Linked DNA regions of Homo sapiens. Each later gene encodes a partner of the first gene's protein in a complex. Each region holds a gene or a part of one and is shown in the gene's direction. Other genes may lie near its edges.

The links. The genes of interacting proteins can lie anywhere in the genome.
Region 2: LIN52 (region 1) and RBL2 share a complex: the UniProt entries of both Homo sapiens proteins name them as parts of the DREAM complex.

The regions. Positions count from the first base shown.
Region 1 is NC_000014.9:74,192,191-74,200,479, forward strand, and holds part of LIN52 (protein lin-52 homolog), read left to right. Parts: exon of another isoform or gene 1-77; intron 78-395; exon of another isoform or gene 396-1,087; intron 1,088-6,731; coding exon 6,732-6,787; 3' UTR 6,788-8,289.
Region 2 is NC_000016.10:53,465,471-53,472,470, forward strand, and holds part of RBL2 (retinoblastoma-like protein 2), read left to right. Parts: coding exon 1-132; intron 133-1,587; coding exon 1,588-1,699; intron 1,700-4,445; coding exon 4,446-4,715; intron 4,716-4,912; coding exon 4,913-5,193; intron 5,194-5,275; coding exon 5,276-5,452; intron 5,453-7,000. UniProt on the Homo sapiens protein: Key regulator of entry into cell division. Directly involved in heterochromatin formation by maintaining overall chromatin structure and, in particular, that of constitutive heterochromatin by stabilizing histone methylation.

The DNA.
Region 1 (8,289 bases):
AGCAGCAGCTAAGGAGACTCCACGGCTTACCATGACTGACAAGAAGGCCAAGGAAGGAAGCAAGACTGAGAACAGTGGTTGTTTTTTGTTTTTGTTTTTGTTTTTTGTTTTTTGAGACAGAGTCTCACTCCGTTGACCAGGCTGGATTACAGTCGCATGATCTCGGCTCACTGCAACCTCTGCCTCCTGGGTTCAAGCGATTCTCCTGCCTCAGCCTCCCGAGTAGCTGGGACTACAGGCACATGCCCCCACGCCCAGCTAATTTTTGTATTTTTAGTAGAGATGAGGTTTCACCATGTTGGCCAGGCTGGTCTCGAACTCCTGACCCCTCAGGTAGTCCGCCTGCCTTGGCCTCCCAAAGTGCTGGGATTACAGGCATGAGCCACCATGCCCAGCCAACAGTGGTCATATTAATTTGAAGGTGGAGGGGTAGGATAGTTCAGTGGTGCAGTCTAAGATTAAGAGGCATACACCACTTGGTAGACTAATGAAAGCTCGTTGTGAACAACAGTATATCAATGAGGCAGATCAGATTCCAATTTGATGGGCAGCCAATTAATGAGACAGACACACCTGCACAGTTGGAAATGAGGATACAATTGATATGTTCCAGCAGCAGACAGGAGGTGTCTACTACAAAGGGAACCTGCTCTTTACTGCAGAACTCCATTCCCACAGACCAGGAATACATTCTCAGAAAACTACAACTCCGTTGAATTCCATCCTGACTACAAAAGTGTAGGGTTTTTTTTGTCCTTTCGTGTACCCCTTTCTCATTCCTTTACTGTGCATAAAGTGACTGGCATTTGTGCACAAGCATATTACCTTTTTATTTTTAAACTAAATGGCCAATGATATGTTTTGATCAACATCAGATGGAGATAAGATGGGGATAAATACTGATTCTGTGGCAATGCCCCCTTTCTCCATTAGTGGCATGCTCATTCAGCTCTTATCTTTATACTTCATTAAGTTATTTTGCCTCATCATTTAATAAAAATCAATAACAAAAAATCCTTCCATGCTTGAAGCTAGTAGTTCAAGATCCTGTCTCCACAAAAAAAAAAAAAAGAAAAAAATTAGCCAGGTATTGCATGCCTGTAGTCACAACTACTTAGGAGGCTGAGGCAGGAGGATCACTTGAGTCCAGGAGGTTGAGGCTGCAGTGAGCTATGGCTGCACCACTGCACTCCAGCCTGGGTGACAGAACGAGACCTTGTCTCTTATAAAAAAAAAAAAAATCCTTCCATACCTTGTTAAATTTGAGAATTTTGGTGTTTTTCACGTGTCATTCTAAAACCAACCAGTTTTTAAACTCTTGTACATAGCTGTTACATGTAGGGCAATATGTCTTTAAGTAGGGATAAGTTACTCTAAAAGAAATGAATCTTAGATAGTTTTCCCACCAGGCATCCTATTGCTTAAGTAAACTTTCTGTTTGAAATGAAACAAATAGTTTTACAGTAGCTAGCATTTATTGAATGCCTGTGTGACTTTGTATTAATCCTACCTTGAATGAATGAGGAAAGGAGCTCAGAAAAATAACTTGGTAATTTGCCTATGTGGCCCAGGGTCAATGTAAGAGCTGAAGTCCTGCTCTTTTCACAATATTACATTGTCTCCTTTGTTTCCTGGCCACTCATATTACAATCTCCTAAAAGCAACCTGTTATTGCTCTTCTGAATATGAGAAACCCAGTGGAAAGTAATTTGTCCCCGCTTCACAAACATTTTTAATTATGTTGAGGCATAGAAATATTTAAAGTAGTTTGCATTGGAATTGAAAAACTGAACTATGAGTTTCTTCCACTTCATTAAAAAGTTTCTTAAAATTTACATTGTTCCCTACATAAAAGCTGAGCAGAATTTTATCAGGCAATTGCCTCAAAGTTATAATCTGGACAATCTTTCTGTAATAAAACCCATATGTCATTGGGGAAAGGTGCAGAGCCCTGGCAGAGAGGGCTGGTCTTGAGAGAGGTTCTGCACCCAATCTCGTTAACCAGGGTGCCTCTGGTAATCCCTCATCCCTCACCAGTGAGAAATCAATCTGTACCACTGAATCTTTTTCAACCAGCCACCAGAAAAATTTACTGCAGAGAAGGCAGTTTGGGGATAGTTATCGTGGAAAGTGAGCCAGAAGCAAGGCTAAATGTAGGATGGAGGAATTGGAGAGTCTAAAGAAGAGATTATATTAAACCACACACCACTTTCAGAGCAGGCACAGTGGAGTCCTCCTTTCAGCCCTGACCTCTCCAAGTATACCCAGGTATTTACAGCTGCCATGAACTGGATAGCCCTGGAGGAACTACGAAAGTGGTGGGGGATAACAGAAACAGTGGAAACCTGAAAGTTGATTGTAGTCTATCCATTTGCTGTCTCTCAGTGTGTAGTAGCCAGTCCCCTCTCCACACTCTGCAGCATTTCACATGTTAACCCTATAGTGACAGTTTCAATTGTGGCTTTCTCAATTTGTGATCTATGTACGACATAATAGGGCCTGTAAATCATGACTTGACATAGGGGTCATGCTTCTCTCCTGCACGGCATACACCAGTAGCTGATGACCAGTGGGCCCCTCTTGGCATAGTTATTAGAATGGAAGCGGTGTTGCCTTCCTGTGAAACCTTGTAATCTTAGAGAATAAATCCAGAATCAAAAAAATAGTTGACAGGCTGGGCGAGGTGGCTCATGCCTATAATCCTAGCACTTTGGGAGGCCAAGGCGGGCAGATCAACTGAGGTCAGGAGTCCGAGACCAGCCTGGCCAACATGGTGAAAACCTGTCTGTACCAAAAATACAAAGAATTAGCCAAGTGTGGTGGTGCATGCTTGTAATCCCAGCTACTTGAGAGACTGTGGCAGGAGAATCACTTGAACCGGGGAGGCAGAGGTTGCAGTGAGCTGAGATTGCAACATTGCACTCCAACCTGGGCAACAAGAGCGAGACTCTGTTTCAAAAAAAAAGAAAATAGTTGACAGATTTCACTGACTCTATATAACACTCTCTCTCTCCCAATCTTGTTGTGTCTAGAATTGTTTTCTATATAATATAATACATTATGGGGAACAAAGAAAAAGGAGAAAATGGAGGAACTGGGAGTGCCAAGCTGAAGAACATGTAGTCTTACTCTGGCCATTCATCCTAGAATTATACCAAGCTACAACCATTGTGAAGAAGAAGGGACAGAACCAGGCAGTGGGGAATAGAAATGGCTTTCTCTTCTCTGTAAGCAGGCAGTAGTCATCTCTAAAGATTTTTCCCCAAAGAGATTTGAAATTCCTGATGGGAGCTTAAAAAGCTAAGAGTAAAATACATTTATTTATAAGACCCTACTAGAAGAGGTGTGTGTGGGTGTGTGTGTGTATGTGTGTGTGTGTGTGTGTGCGCGTGTAGACGAGGAATACAGAATAGTAGCAGAAGGCTGTCTCCCTACTCCTAATGGGATTTTGTAGCAGTATGTGCAAGTTTGTTTCAGAAGTCAAAAATGAACAGATGTTAGTATAAATTACCTCTGTGTCTGATGTCTTGCAAATTAAAAGCGCAGTTGGCATCACTAAACAATTTCACTAGGTTTGGGGGGGTTCGGTTAGCGGGCGGTGATTACTGTAGCAGGTCGGTAAGAATCTTCGCCCTGCAGCAGAGCAAGGATAAAGAAATGAGGAATAAAATAAGGGCTATATGAATTAATCAGAAATGTTAACATCTCTGATGACAAGTGAACAGGAGGGCACGTGCTCTGGAGCAGCCCCTGACCCACAGCAATTTCTCTGTGCACAAAAAGGGGTTGGTGCTTAGCATCTGATTTATAGGGCACAGCCCTCTTTTAGGGAGCGGCTGTGTCATACATTCGTATATCTCCTGTATGGGACTGGCGAGTAGGAAAACTTTCTCTCCTCCCATGTAGGAGATGATGTCTTTTGAATTACTTCTACTTTTACAGTGGTTTCCTGCAGCTCTGTGTACTTGGATTAGGTTGAAGGGGGAGGAATGATTGAGTAGAAAAAGGGTTGTTAAAAAGGATTGGTTAAATTCAAGGAGAGCTTGCCACTGAGAGACTTCAGAATATCTATTTATTTTTCCTTTTAAACCCTTTTGACCCCTTAAATTGTGTGGATCTTTTAAAATTCTAAGTCTTAAAATATTGGTCATTTTCCCATTTGGGGAAAAACAGTAAGGAGTTGGTGAGTCTGAAGGTCAGCAGGCAGAAATCATTGGTTAGAGCAATGCAGTGCTCCAGGCCCAGGATTTTTGGAACAAGGCTCTATTCTCTCCAGAAGACTTTTGTATTGACCGTGTCTGGTTTCCAGAGCTCCTGCTTCTAGCCATGTTGCAGGATCATTAGTTACATGTTTAAACTTGAGAGTAGACAGATAACCCATCTAGTAGAAATAAGTGAGACCCAATCTGCCCAAAAGTATAAGTAAATTTCTTTTCCTTCAAGCTGAGGGAAAAGATTCCAAGGAACGGAGTTTTGTTTGCTAGCCTCCCTTTGTGCAGTTTGTTCATTCATTCATTCATTCATTCACTCACTCAGAAAATACTAAGTGCGAGAGAACTTACCCCCCTCTGGAAAGTGTTGTGTTAATGATTAGCACTATACCAAGCATGTTCATTGCTAATATCCAAGAGAAAAGTAGGGTATTAACATGCTCTCCGTTACAAATGAAGAGACTGAGGCTCAGAGATCTGCCCAGCCCAAGGTGTCACCCTGCTGCTAAGTGCTAGAGCTGAAACTTAAACTGAGTTCAAATCCTGTGTTCTCTGCAAGAAGCCCATGCTACCTCCTATGGGCAAGACAGTACTTGATTGGATTTTCTCTAGAGTAGTTAGTCCTTGACCCCAGTCTCTCCATGAACTTGGCATTATTTGCATTAAGGGAAATGATTTTCTTGCCAAATAAGCAAGGCACATTTAAAAAGACTCCCATCATGTAGAGAATGGAGCACTGAGGGCCACTAACTAGTCATATTTGTTAATGGAAAGGAAGGAAACTAACATTTTTTGCATTTCTACTTGGTTCTAGTTCTTTGGTGTATTATAATTTATCCAGTCAACACTTACTCAGCAGACACTAGGTCTGCTGAGTCTGTAGCAGGTCGGTAAGAATCTTCGCAGTGCAGCAGAGCAAGGATAAAGAAATGAGGAATAAAATAAGGGCTATATGAATTAATCAGAAATGTTAACATCTCTGATGACAAGTGAACAGGAGAGCACGTGCTCTGGAGTTTGGATCTGATTGTGGATCTTTTGCCAAGGGAGAGAAGACCAAAGCTCTTAACAGTCTCTGCCTTCAGTTTTTACATTTTAGTGGAGGAAGACAACCATATAAGCTAGTAATTGCATGCAAGTCTTATGGGAACTTTCTTGTACAGGATTTGCTGTAAATCCATGAAGGAAGGAATGGTCTGTTTGATTTGGTCTGGGTTGGGGTTGTGAGCACATGAGGCAAGACCCAACACTGGGCTTCTATGCCTAGTTAATGGAATTTCCTTTCCCTTTGTTGGGGCACAGGAACTAGTGAAAGATGGGGAATGTATAGACTGAAGTTACAAAAGCCTCCCTGTGGTCCCAGAGGTTGTGTAGTTTTTATTTCTTCATTGTACAAGAAAACAAGAAACTGTTAAACTTAAATTGGGGCAGAGGGGAGCTGGAGGCCATTCATCTAGCTCCATTTGCTCTGGACTTGGGAAAGGCAACAAGGAGGCCAGGGTGAAGGTCCTTCTCATTCCTGAGAGTGCCTCCCTAGCCACCTCACTTCTTTGGCCAGGACGGAGATGTGTTCTTGGGAGACCACACAGCCTACCCCGTGCCTACTGCATGGTTCCAGAAGGCCTGGCTTCCAGAGCCAGCCATCAGCGATCAGAAACTTTCTGCACTGTTAAATCCATTTAAGAAATCTGAAAACATGGCCTTGCAGGATGAGGATGAGGATGAGGAAGGGGCTGTTACACTACGTATGCTTTCTGAGATCTAAAATGGGAGACCTCTGGAGTAGCCCTTGTAATTGAGAAATGTTTTACTTTCATTTTGGAGCCTTATATGTAGGAAAGTAGCTGTATAAACCCACTTGTAACTATAGCATTCAAAGATTGATGGTGCTGAAAGCCGGAGAAAGACACATAAACCTTGGCTGGCTATATTAAATAGCTAAGGACTGACAATGCCAAGGGAGAGAAGACCAAAGCTCTATAAACCCTACTTTATGACACCATCCACAGATGAACTGCACTGAGGGAATATAAACCCTGTTATATTACAGTATCCAGGGACTAACACTGCTGAGAGATAGGGTAAATGATCTCTAATTTTGATTTGAGATTATAAATGTCCAGAGACCAGCAACCCAGAGAAGACTAATCTTGGTTGGATTTTAGGCTTCAAGAGCAAACCCCCTGAGATAGTGAACATGAGTATTAGGTTAGATTCTAGAGACAGAGATAGGTTTTGGGGGAATCCCCTGGTGATTTGTTTAAAGGTGGATGATAAAATCTTTCCCAGTCATTTGGCATGTATCTCAATTGCCAACTTCAGAATAGCTTTGTACAGTTTTAGTTGTCTATAGTGGTTTGTTTTTACCCCCTTTTAGGTTAGTTGGTGATGATTGAATCTGTTGTGATAGCAACTTGATATATAATTTAAATCAATCTGCATTTTTAAATTAAATCTTCCTATGATTCTTTTTTCCGATTTTAGGTTTTCATTGATCATTTGTTTGCTTTGTGATTCCAGCCAGAGAGATGACACGGGGGAAATTCCTCAATATTCTAGAGAAGCCCAAGAAGTAGCAGCTGCTTGCGGACAGGATGTCCTGGGGTCCGAAACCAAGCTCCCTTCCCGGTGCACCTCTAACAATGCACACCTCACTGCTTGCTTGGGAGAGGCCAGAGGGTGTACCTCCAGGACTGCCCTCTCCCCTGCTCCTGGCACTCTACACGTCTGAGGACATTCAGCAGCAAGAGAAGAATCTGCTCTACCCAAGGATCATTGCAGTTACTCAATCAACTTTCAGACTTGAACCTTCTTAGCCTCGGATATTGGTAACAGCTGAGGGCATATCATTCTTAAAGGTCGAAGTCCTGCTTTCTCATTTCTGGAAGTGATTCAGGAGCCCCAGGATCTTACGGTTGATTTGACTCAGTCATGGCAGTCAGTTGTGACATGTTGATTGGATGGGTTCTTTTGAATTGTTCTTGATCTCTTAGAAAGTGTTTACGATGTGAGGAGACCAGAGACCAAGTAGATTCTGGACCAGACCATGCAGCCTGACCTGTGAACTCTCCAGTATATACTAAGTTCCCAGAATCCCCAGCTGAAGAAACCAGAATCTTCTCGAAATGTATATCTGTTTTTTAAAACTTCTATACCTCTTATGATAGTCCCATTTGCTTTTCATTCCTTACTTCCCAGCCCCACCTTCTAGTTCTGACTTCGGGCAGAGGGATCCCTGAGTCCCTCCTGGAATTAGCTTGTATAGTGAAAGGCCCATCCAAGGTTGTCTAAAGACCAATGTGAAGGTGACAGAAAGGACTTTTGAGTTCTAATTAATCTGTTACAGCTTCAAGCAAGAAAGTCAGTATAGCCTGAAAGACAAGAGAAACGGGATGGTTTATAGGAGTTCCCATTTGGTTGAAAGCTAGAAGCCCTAATTGACCTTAAAGTAACATGCTATGGGATGGTGGGATTGTCCCCTCTGACAGCACATATGAAATAGTTCATCTATATAATAGAAACGCACACACACGAAAAAGAATCTTCTGACTTAAATACAACTTTCATGGAGTTCTTCACCACTTATCTGTCTCTGTTAAAATCTGAAAATCTAGCCCATGGCTAAAATCTATTATATGTGTTCTCCATATTTCTTGTATAAGCCAGTCCCCAGCATCTGATGTTTTGAGAAGTGCATGGAGTTTCCTAAACTTTGCACAAAAGAATATCCTGGGGCCGGGCATGGTGGCTCACGCCTGTAATCCCAGCACTTTGGGAGGCCGAGGCAGGTGGATCATAGGTCAAAAGATCGAGACCATCCTGGCCAATATGGTGAAACCCTGTCTCTACTAAAATACAAAAATTAGCTGGGCATGATGGTGCATGCCTATAGTCCCAGCTACTTGGGGGCCTGAGGCACGAGAATCGCTTGAATTCGGGAGGTGGAGGTTGCAGTGAGCCGAAATTATGCCACTGCACTCCAGCCTGGGCAACAGAGTGAGACTCTGTCTCAGAAAAAAAAAAAAAAAAAAAAAAAAAAAAAGAATATCCCTGTGGCAATAGTCTGATGGTGTTTGGA
Region 2 (7,000 bases), on another chromosome or scaffold:
CTTTGTAGAGAGGTGGTAAAACACCTTAATCAGATTGAAGAACAGATCTTAGATCATTTGGCATGGAAACCAGAGTCTCCACTCTGGGAAAAAATTAGAGACAATGAAAACAGAGTTCCTACATGTGAAGAGGTTTGTGAAAATAACATCTTTTTATGAGAAAAATACATCAATATCTAATCTATTAATAATCCTTTTGGGGATGGGAGGGTGGCAATTAGGTTTAATATGTTATAATTACACCTTGTTATGAGAAAAATCTTGGACTGTAACGTCCCTCTCTACCCACAAATTGGGAAGGTGCCAAGAGACCAAAGAATGACTCAGACAAGTCCAGCTTGGTAAGTAGATAACGTTTATTAAGACTTACATATGGAGGAGGCAGAGGTGGTGGGGAAAAATAAAAGACTTATATACAGGGTACTCCTAGGTAGCAGCAGGACAGCTCTAGAGATCCTCGCCACCTCCCATCGCTAAGCTGCTTTTAAGCTAATTTTCTGGCTCTTTGCCTACTATGTGTGTGCACGATGGGACTGTTTTCCTTGGTAGTTTCTCAGATCTTCTCTGGGATGTTGGGGTTCTCAGGGACACCTGTTCCTTGGCTGGGCACCATGGCCTTGGCTCACTGCCTAGCCTTCAGGGTTTAGGCAGCAGACATACACCCTTAAGTAAGGTAGGTGACCTGTCACATTTCACCCCATGTCAAAGAGGAAACGAGTCAGATAATTTGTGGTTGTCCTAAGATTTTGGTGACAGAGTAAAAATTCAGTGTTCTTTCTTGATTTCCTTACCAAGTTTCTTTCCCATAGAGCAGTGGTCCAACCTTTTTGGCACCAAGGACCAGTTTCATGGAAGACAATTTTTCCATGGACAGGGTTGGGGGTTGGAGAGATTTTGGGATGATTCAACTGCCTTACATTTATTGCACACTTTATTTCTATTATTATTACGTGGTAATATATAATGAAATAATTATACAACTCACCAAAATGTAGAGTCAGTGGGAGCCCTGAGCTTGTTTTCCTGCAACTAGATGGTCCCATCTGGGGGCGGTGGGAGACAGTGACAGATCAGCAGGCATTAGATTCTCATAAGGAGCATGCAACCTAGATCCCTTATGTGTGCAGTTCACAATAGGGTTCACACTCCTGTGAGAATCTAATGCCACCACTAATCTGACAGGAGGCCAGCACAGGCGGCAATGTGAGCGATGGGGAGCAGCTTTAAATACAGATGAAGCTTTGCTCGCATGCTCACTTGCCTGCTGCTCACCTCCTGCTATGTTGCCCAGTTCCTAACAGGGTCCATGGCCCAGGGGTTGGGGACTCCTGCTTTAGAGTGGTTGATATTCAAACTCTCCAAACCAGTAATGAAGTTTGACTCATATTTAGTATCCAATTACAAGGTTTTGAATTTTTTGACTGCCAAAAGTTTTTTTTTTAACTTTATTATTAAAATGGGAAAGACAGCTGATTTTATTTAGATGGAATAATTGTTAAGATACTTTTTCTGCCTTAGATTACTATTGTATTTGTAATTAAAGTGCTTTTTTGGATACTGGCATTCTGTGTAACCAATTCTTCATAGGTCATGCCACCTCAGAACCTGGAAAGGGCAGATGAAATTTGCATTGCTGGCTCCCCTTTGACTCCCAGAAGGGTGACTGAAGTTCGTGCTGATACTGGAGGACTTGGAAGGAGTAAGTTTAAAATACTAGGAGAATATTTTGGGGCTTACTATCTGGAAATTTAAATTTCATCTAACCCTACAAGTGAAGTTAATAGGGTATACATAGAAGAAAATATTCTATGCATTTTTGTACCACATGGATCACTTAAAAGAAGGGCCTTTAAAGACTAAGAACACAGGAAAATGCATGATATAACAGGTATCTTTTAAAAAGGATAGACTGCTTTATTTATTTATTTATTTATTGAGACAGAGTCTTGCTCTGTCACTCAAGCTGGAGTGCAGTGGCCCAATCTCAGCTCACTGCAACCTCTGCCTGCCGGGTTCAAGCGATTCTCATGCCTCAGCCTCCTGAGTAGCTGGGACTACAGGCATGCGCCACCACGCCTAGCTAATTTTTGTATTTTTAGTAGAGAAGGGGTTTTGCCATATTGGCCAGGCTGGCCTTGAACTCCTGACCTCAAGTGATCCGCCTACCTCGTTCTCCCAAAGTGCTGGAATTACAGGCATGAGGCACCGTGCCCGGCTGACTGCTGTATATTTAATATGATCCCTATTTTTAAAGTGTATGTTTATTTATGAGCATACAAAATAGTGGAAATGGAAAAACCAAACTGTTAAGATCATTGTTGGGTGATAGAATTCCTGGTGATTTCTGTAAAATTTTTAAGGCAAATACATATTACTTTTAAAATCAGAAATAGAAAAGCCTTCTTAAAGATAGAGCTGCATGATCCAGTTAGGTATAGACAAGCCAGTGAGTTAAGACAACTGAGTATGTTCCACTTTGTTGAGCTGTGCTACCCTAGTTAATGTGACATTAGTGCTGGCCCAAGAAATACAGAAAAGGGCAGTTTTGCTATCTATCTGGTTTGTATTTTTTAGGCAGCTGCTTAGAAGATCTGCAAGGTGAAAGGTTTTAGTTTACATATGTGAGATAGAACTACTTTTTTAAAGAGCAATTCAGTAAATCCAGAGAGTTCTAAATCCTTGGATCCAATTAAAAGAATATTCTTATTTCTAGATCAGTTTTATAATGTAATTGATAAGAACTGGCTATAGAAGGAATACCAGTTTTAAAGTCAGGATTCACTCTAGGCTGGGCATGGTGGCTCATGCCTGTAATCCCAGCACTGTGGGAGACCTAGTGGGGAGGATCACTTGAGCCCCGGAGTTCAAGACCATCCTGGGCAACATAGCAAGATACCATCTCTACCCCCAACCCCCCCAAAAAAATCACTCTAAGTGTATACTTAATACACATGGATGATCCTTATGAAAAGTCCTCATTTTTGAAAGATCTGACAGCTGGTCTTTCTTAGTCTATTTTTGTAGAATTTTCCGTTCCCTAATCTACAGATTAGGAAGACTTGACTTTAAACTTCATTTTCTTTGTACTTACCACTTCTCAGTTTTCCTGAGATCTCTTGATATTTTATAAGAAAAAATGATCATAATCTATTCTTTCTGATTCTGCAGCTTTGTACCAAATACAAATCTAGTAAGTTTATTTACTTTTGTATCATCTGGAAATAGAAATGTTAAGCCACAGTTTGTTAGGATTTACTCCTATCAGTACTTCTTACAAACTTTCTATGTATATTTTAAATTTTAAAAACACTCTGATGCACAGCTCTTAGAAGTGGACACAGAAGAAGGAAGAAATGCTTCTCAAAAATTCAGACATTGGTGTGAATACTTAAAAATAGACTAAGCCATAATGGGTTGTGTACCACTGAATCATACACTTAAAAATGGTTGAATGGTAAATTTTATGTTATATATATAACCACAATTTTAAAAAACTAGCCTGTAATACCAGCATTTTGGGAGGCCAAGGCGGGTGGATCACCTGAGGTCAGGAGTTCGAGACCAGCCTGGCCAACATGGTGAGACCTCATCTCTACTAAAAATACAAAAATTAGCCATGCCTTGTGGCATATGCCTCTAATCCCAGTTACTTGGGAGGCTGAGGCACAAGAATCACTTAAACCCAGGAGGCAGAGGTTGTAGTGAGCCGAGATCAGGCTACTGCACTCCAGCCTGGGTGATAGAGTAAGACTCTGTCTCAAAAAATAAAAAAAATAGTAACAATTTGCCCCAAACCATTGAATTGTATAATTTAAGTAGATGAAATTTATGGTATATAAACTGTTTTAAAAAAATAAATTATGCTTAACTGAATCCAAATCATGCATGTCCACCTTGCTTAAGAACATTATTGAGTTTTAATAATTTTTTATATGTGGAAAAAGACAGAGATCAAAATTGATAAAACCGGTGGCGGAATGCTCCTAGATGACATACTACCAATCAGGTCCCCTTATCAAGTAGTGGCTCTGTAGTAAAATCACATCTTACATGAGTGGTAGGTAGAAAGTGGATATGATAGAAAATATTATAGAAAAATATAATATAGAAAAATAGGGTAATTCCTTAAATTGCCCCTAAATCATGAAGGTTCTTTAGTAGTGGAAGACAGAGTCAGGTCTGATTTGGGAAAGGGGGCGTGGAGAAAGGAACACTGCAAGACAAAAAATTCCGTTTTAAAATTTTGCTCTCAGTAGTGTTCACTGAACACGAATGAAAGTTCACTAATGAATATAGGTAAGATATGACTTCTGTAATTCTTGTTTGCTTTTTGAATTATGAAGTATTTCAAACACTGTAGTTATTTTTTAACATAAGAGCTTGGACGGAAGTCAGATCTGAGTCTCCTTGAGTTAAATGCTTTGTTTGATTTGTTTTGACCCTAGGCATAACATCTCCAACCACATTATACGATAGGTACAGCTCCCCACCAGCCAGCACTACCAGAAGGCGGCTATTTGTTGAGAATGATAGCCCCTCTGATGGAGGGACGCCTGGGCGCATGCCCCCACAGCCCCTAGTCAATGCTGTCCCTGTGCAGAATGTATCTGGGGAGACTGTTTCTGTCACACCAGTTCCTGGACAGACTTTGGTCACCATGGCAACCGCCACTGTCACAGCCAACAATGGGCAAACGGTAACCATTCCTGTGCAAGGTAAGGAAGGCAGAGTTGGATATTGAGTTCCTTCTCTGTGGCATGTATTGAAAAGTTACCCGAGGTTTGGCTAGAGTGACATAGGGGACAGAGGAGTGATGGGGAGAGAGGGTTTGGGAGAGCAGAAATTGTAAACCTCTGCCCGGAGAACCTCTTATTATCAACATTTTCTTCATGCTTTTTTTCTCTGTCACTAGGTATTGCCAATGAAAATGGAGGGATAACATTCTTCCCTGTCCAAGTCAATGTTGGGGGGCAGGCACAAGCTGTGACAGGCTCCATCCAGCCCCTCAGTGCTCAGGCCCTGGCTGGAAGTCTGAGCTCTCAACAGGTGACAGGAACAACTTTGCAAGTCCCTGGTCAAGTGGCCATTCAACAGATTTCCCCAGGTGGCCAACAGCAGAAGCAAGGCCAGTCTGTAACCAGCAGTAGTAATAGACCCAGGAAGACCAGCTCTTTATCGCTTTTCTTTAGAAAGGTAATTTTTCACATACCTTATCAGAGCATGAGCTTGGGAAATACAAGTGTTAAACAAAGTTTGAAATGTTTTTATCTCCTAGGTATACCATTTAGCAGCTGTCCGCCTTCGGGATCTCTGTGCCAAACTAGATATTTCAGATGAATTGAGGAAAAAAATCTGGACCTGCTTTGAATTCTCCATAATTCAGTGTCCTGAACTTATGATGGACAGACATCTGGACCAGTTATTAATGTGTGCCATTTATGTGATGGCAAAGGTGAGTACCATTTGGAATTGTAAAGGCAAAGATAGGTCTTCATTACTGAGAACATTTTTTAACCACTGTCTTGAGATACAGTTTACATGCTCTATAATTCACCTATTTAAAATGCACAACTAAATGGGTCTTAGTATATTCACAGATATGTGCAATACTCACCACAATTTTAGAACATAATATTCCATTGTATAGTTATATGAGAGTATTTTTATCCATTTATTAGCTAATGTATATTTTAGTTGTTTCTACTTTTGGCATATATGCATAATACCACTATTAGCATTTGTGTTTGGGTTTTTGTATAGACATGTATTTTCATTTCTCTAGGGTATATACCTAGGAATGGGCTGCTGGGTCATACATTAACTGTGTTTTAACTATTTAGGGAATTGCTAGATTGTTTTCCAAAGTACTGTACCATTTTACACTTACACAGCAGTATAATAAAGATTTTAGTTTCTCCACTATCTCATTAACACTTACTATCTTACTTTGTTTAAATAACTTATTGAGGAGAAATTCACATAACATAAAATTAATTGGGTTTTTCTTTTTTTTTTTGAGATGTTGTTTCATTCTTGTCACCCAGGCTGGAGTGCAGTGGTGCATCTCAGCTCACTGCAACCTCTGCCTCCCAGGTTCAAGCGATTCTCCTGTCGTAGCCTCCCGAGTAGCTGGGATTACAGCCATGTGCCACCATGCCTGGCTAATTTTTGCATTTTTAGTAGAGATGGGGTTTGACCATGTTGGCCAGGCAGGTCTCAAACTCCTGACCTCAGGTGATCTGCCCACCTCGGCCTCCCAAAGTGCTGGGATTACAGGCATGAGCCACTGGGCCCAGCCAAATTAACTATTTTAAGTTGAACAATTTAGGAGCATTTAGCACATTTACAGTACTAAGTGTAATAAATGGTTGTATACTCACCACCTCTGTCTAGTTCCAGAACATTTCCGTACCTGCAAAGTAAAACTCCTTTCCTATTAAGTAGTTTCTCCCCATTCTACCTCCCACAGCACCTGGCAACCAGCAGTTGGCATTCTGGCTGTATGGATTTATCTGTTCTTAATCGTTTATAGAAATGGTACAATATGTGACCTCTTGTGTATGGCTCCTTTTACTTAGGATAATATTTTCCAGGTTTACCCATGTTGCAGCATGTATCAGTACTTCATTCCTTTTTATGACTGAATGATATTCCATTGTATGGATAGGCACAATTTTTTTCTCCACTCATACACTGATGGATATTTGGGCTGTTTCCAACTGTTGGCTATAGTGAATAGCACTGTTGTGAACAGGTATATCATGTACCTGTTTGAGTGCCCATTTTCAGTCCTTTTGAGTTTATTCCTAGGAGTGGAACTGCAGGGTCATATGGTGATACTATGTTTAACTTTTTTGAAGAACCACCGTACCATTTTCCACAGAAGCTGCACCATTTGACATTGCTACCAGTAATGCACAAGAGTTCCAGTTTCTCCACATCCTTGCCAACTTATTATTTTTATTATAGCCATCTTAGCGGGTATTGGGTGATATATCAT